2 separate regions of the Homo sapiens genome follow, and region 2 is linked to region 1. A link means that fine-mapping ties the variant in region 1 to the expression of a gene that starts in the linked region. Tissue or cell type: blood mononuclear cells. Region 1 holds a variant in brackets; the other region holds the start of a gene. All regions are shown on one strand. Distances are between the middles of the regions.

Evidence for each region. PIP is the estimated chance that this variant, and not a neighbour inherited with it, causes the effect.
Region 2: it holds the start of GCNT1, and the variant in region 1 is fine-mapped to the expression of GCNT1 in blood mononuclear cells (TOPMed, PIP 0.97).

What each region holds. Positions count from the first base shown.
Region 1 is chr9:76,528,580-76,531,339 of GRCh38, reverse strand. No RefSeq gene overlaps it. Among named protein-coding and RNA genes, the nearest start is that of GCNT1, 71 kb to the right of the region's middle. The variant C/T (reference allele first, on the strand shown) is at 1,438.
Region 2 is chr9:76,457,913-76,460,412 of GRCh38, reverse strand. GCNT1 (glucosaminyl (N-acetyl) transferase 1) reads right to left here and starts at 1,231. Exons shown (of 4, transcript NM_001490.5): 1 at 1,108-1,231; 2 at 236-353. RefSeq lists an enhancer at 187-296 and a silencer at 907-1,446.

The sequences.
Region 1 (2,760 bases):
CTCTCCCTGATTCTAGAACCCACACAAAAAATCTGGGTTTGGGATTTAGGAAAAACAACAGAAGGTTTTTAGGGTCCATGTACCCATAGAAAACTGTAGCTTCCTGCTTTTATAAAAAATCAATTTTGAGTATATAGTTAGTATATTTTTTCTCAAAATAGCAAATCCATTTGAGAAATCAACAATTTAATAACAATGTTTTTTTAAAAATTGAAATATCTGGCAAATGATTAAACATGGCCAATTTACAAGCAACTTTTCAATCTTAGTGAAAGGGCTGATTTGGATAGAAATCAACAAAATTGTCAGGAGGGGCCATAAGTGAGGGAAGAGGGAAGAAGCTGCTGGAAAAAAAACGAAAGGAAAGCAGTTACTAGGGACAATGTCTCCATTAGTCACAGCAGGCAGAGTGCCTGCGACCGACAATACTTTCAGAGGCCTACAGAAAGTGGTTTCATTTTTATTTCCGTTAAAATCAGAAGAAAAAAATGAATATATTATAATGGACCCAGCCTGGATTATATTTATATTTACACTAATGCAGTTGTGAAATACAATTTTTATTGTTTTTTCTTAAGAAGGAAGGAGCCCACAGAGGCAACGTGGTTGGGGCCTAAGAAAGTCCTCATGTGGCCCTGGCAGTTACTAAATAGGTTGGTTCAAATGCCTAAAAAAATACAGCCCTGTGGTTAATGAAATGTCTTCAGTGACGTTAACATTGATAGCATCCACATTTCCCTAGCTGAGTGGGCCCCCTCTACAGACTACAGGATCTCAGCCCACCTTTTAAAGCTTCCCCAGCCATAACTAGAGACCCCTTCCAAGTGCTCAGTACCAAGGCCAATCAGATTTTTTTTTTTTTTTTTTGAGATGGGAGTCTCACTCTGTCACCCAGGCTGGAGTGCAGTAGGTCCATCTCGGCTCACTGCAAGCTCCACCTCCTGGGATCAAGAGATCCTCCTGCCTCAGTCCCCCTAGTAGCTGGGACCACAGGCACACGCCGCCCTGCTCAGCTAATTCTTGTTTTTTTGTTGCTGTTGTTTGTTTTTTTGAGACGGAGTCTTGCTCTGTTGCCAGGCTGGAGTGCAGTGGCGCAATCTTGGCTCACTGCAGCCTCTGCCTCCCAGGTTCAAGTGATTTCCCTGCCTCAGCCTCCCGAGTAACTGGGACTACAGGTGCGTGCCACCACGACCGGCTGATTTTTTTTTTTTAATTGTATTTTAGTAGAGATGGGGTTTCACCATGTTGGTTAGACTGGTCTCGAACTCCTGATCTCAGGTGATCCGCCCACATTGGACTCCCAAACTGCTGGGATTACAGGCGTTAGCCACCGCGCCCAGCCCCAGTCAGATTTTTCTGTGCTGCTCCTTTCCACTGCCAAGAAGCCCTGTTAGGAGATGCCTCGTTAGTATTACTTTAGCTGGTGTCTACTTCAGC[C/T]TTTTTATCTAGGTGCTGTTTCCAAACTTTCAGTTCCTCATGGTGCCCACACAGCACTGGAGAACCTTCCATCCCAACCCAGTGTTAAAAGCTGTGCTGCAGGCACCCAGGAAGGGGGAAGCTTCTCCGTCTATAAATCAGGGTAATATGTTTCACTGAAGTCCTGAAACATCTGTGCTTGTACCTGGAGCCTCCCAAAGTCCTTCATGTAAATAGTAACTCCAGTGAATTACTGGTCTCTGAGCCTGGGCTGAGGAACAGACAACATCCTATCTTCCACTCTCCCATTCAATCCTGTCTCTTGTCCCACGGCATCCAAACACTTTTTCCTCCAATGTTCCGTTCTTCCAGGAAAATGTACACATACCACTTTGGTGCTGCCCTACACAAAGCAGATACTTGTTTTTTATTATACACACATGTATAAAGCCAAGTATTTCAAAAACAAGTATCAATTTTCAATTTTTTTTTTAAATATAGAGACAGGGTGTCACTGTGTTGCCCAGGTTGGTCTCCAACTCCTGCGCTCAAGCGATCCTGCCATCTTGGCTTCCCAAAGTATTGGGATTACAGATGTGAGCCATCCCACCTGGCTAATTTTCAAATATTTCAAAAGCAGTTAACATCGATATATAGTATATCTGAAACAAAGCATCATCAATATTGTCAATGCAGTATGTAATTAATATGGCCTCTTTTTACCATTTAAGTTCTGGTAAACAATTTTGATCCATCATATCTAACATAAAATGTGCAAATGATAGTTCTAGAACTATAGTGAGGAGATAACGAAAGGATATTATGTTGGATGGTAAAGCTCAAGTGGTTTTGAGAGGTGACAACGTGCTAGCAGCCCTTGCTCACTCCCGGTGCCTCCTTGGCCTCAGCATCTGCTCTGGCCACACTCCAGGAGCCCTTCAGCCCGCAGCTGTGCTGTGGGGGCCCCTCTCTGGGGCTGGCCGAGGCGGGAGCCGGCTCCCTCTGCTCACAGGGAGGTGTGGAGGCAGAGGCGAGGGCGGCAGCTGGGGCTGTGGCGCTAGTGGGCCAGCACGGGTTCCAGGTGGGCGCGGGCTGGGAGCGGGTCCCACACTCGGCGCCTGCTGGGCTTGATCCAGGTACGAGCTCCCTCTGGGTTGCCGGAATGCCCGGGGTAGGTGCCCAAAAGTCCTGGCGGCCAGTGCCATTGAGAGGTGAAGCCAGCTGGGCTTTTGGGTTGGGTGGAGACCTGGAGAACTTTTCCCTCTGGCTAAAGGATTGTAAACGCACCAATCAGCACTCTGTGTCTAACTAAAGGTTTGTAAACACACCAATCAGCACTCTGTC
Region 2 (2,500 bases), 71 kb after region 1:
GACCACGTCTCTCACCTCCCACCCATCAAATTCAGCCCACAAAAAGCTGTGGCCGCATTCTCATCTCAAGGCACCACGGCTTTCTTTGAACACCATATATCTTCCCAATTGGCCTCTTGCCCCATTATGTGTAAAAAACCGACTCTCTTTTCTGCAGAAAGAAATAACAAGGCAAAGGGTGTACAGGGCAACGTTTATATGCATCTACAGCATGCCAGGTGCCTACAGAACCTACCTCGGCCTAGGCGGTCCGTGCCCTAGCCGGGATCTGCAGGCGCCCTCATCCACGCTGGGAGACGGGAAGAGGAGAGGGAGGCGTGACAGGCGAGGGTGCCTGTGCTGCGCAGAAAGCGCTGCCAGGAGAAAAGAAGCAGTGAGCAAGGGCTTCTTCCATTTCAAAAACCTAATAACCAAAACTTGGAGGAATCTGCCTGAGATACTTAAAAAAAAGAGGAAAGAGAAACCTAGGAGGGGGTAAAATGCTTTTAAGACGAATCACTTGTTTTCGTAATAGACCCTGCGCGCGAGTTTCCTAGACTGCCGCGAGAAGAAGGAAAGCGAGGGAGCAGGAAAGGAGAGGCTTCGGAGCCCCTAAACTAACGTCTCTTTTCTTATTAGTAATAGTTTGCTCCAGGGTGAGTCATTTATTATCCTAGCGTTGGCCTCTTTATCAGTAAAGTAGGGGTGAAAATGCATCTTAGCCGGGCTGGCGTTAGGATTCAATGAAGTTAAATGAAGTTAAGCCCCTGGCACCCATGGGATGGCAGCGAGTCTGTTCGTTCCCTGCCTATCCACGCCCGCAGCCAACCCCTCCGACATCTAAGCTACACGGACCAGGGGCAAGAGGCCAGAAAGTGACTTTCAGGGGACACGGGGCACCGGCGTCCCAGCCCCACTGAGCGGACGGAAAATGAAGGTGGAAGGAAGAGGCGCCGCTCCATTCCGGTCCCGGGCGCACCCCGGTTCTGCTTCCTCCTCCGCGGGGGAGCCCAGCCCGCCCGGGGCCACGGGGCACTGGCTGAGAGCCGGCTCCCTCCCACCCATCCTTCTCAGCCTTCCCCCACCGCCGGGCGGCCGAGCAGGGGAACACGAGGGAGAGCCGGTTACCTGGAGTGGGCGTCTGACCCCGGAGTCTCAGGAGGATGCCCAGCCGCTCCTGCTCCACCAAGCTCCCGCCCCGCGCCGCGCTCTAGGCGCTCCGGAGCTGCGCCTGCAGCCCTCACACCAGCGTGGCCCGCCCCGGGGCCGCCCCCAGAGGCCCCGCCTTTCTAGGCCCCGCCCACCACGTCCCCGCCTCGCCCACCTGCGCGAGCTCGGGGCTGGGGACTTGCTGCGGACTCGCGGTTCCCGCCTACAGGCGAGGGCGCCCTCTGGGCACTGACGTGGTCTGGGAGTAGCGCTGCGATCCTAGTGCTTCCTCGCTCCTCTTCCTCACTGTGCTCTGATTCTTAAGAGGTGTGTGAGCGGCGTCTTTTTAAACATTTTATGCCTCCCTTCCTCGAAAGCAGGAAACTCGAGAAATGCTGCCTTTTCTGATTTTAAACATGAAAATATGTTACAGAACAACAATAAAATTAAATTCCAAGGTTCTCGATATGTAAAGTTTAGAGATAACCATGTAGGTGTTTTTTTCTCTCCCCTAACGAACCTTGCTTCCTAAATTTAGCATTTAAGAACTCATTACATTCATGTGTATTTCCACATAAAAATTAAGATCAAATTAAACTGTGGAACAATCCACAGTGCTGTGGAAAGTAGGAAAAAACCTTCCCCGCCCTTATAGCACAGATCTTTGTGTCAGTTATAAAAGTTGACACAGTTCTCTTTGTAACAAGGGGAATATTGTGTCTGTGTCTTCTTTCGTTGGATTTTTAGCTCCTAGAAAACAGAACGAGGTCTTATTTGTTTCCATGTTGTTTAAAAAAAATTCTGGCCGGGCGCGGTGGCTCACGCCTGTAATCCCAGCACTTTGGGAGGCCGAGGCGGGCGGATCACCAGGTCAGGAGATCGAGACCATCCTGGCTAACATGGTGAAACCGCGTCTCTACTAAATATACAAAAAATTAGCCAGGCGTGGTGGCGGGCGCCTGTAGTCCCAGCTACTCGGGAGGCTGAGTCAGGAGAATGGCGTGAACCCGGGAGGCGGAGCTTGCAGTGAGCCGAGATCGTGTCACTGCACTCCAGCCTGGGCAACAGAGCGAGACTCCATCTCAAAAAAAAAAAAAAAAAAAAAAAAATCCAACTCAGAGGCCATTAGACTGTGATATGTTTGACACTTGCCTGATTTGTCAACAAAAATTAACATAAGATGATGGTATAGAGGAAGAAAGACTTCCCCTCTACTCTCTGAGGCTTGGATAACTAAGTCTATGAAATAAATTGACTGCAGGTAGATTAACAAGAGAAAAAGTACACAGATTTCGTGTAGGGGGTATCACAGAAAAGAAAAACTAATATTCCCTCTGCCTCCCCCAACAAAAACTGAGATTTTAGGAGCTTG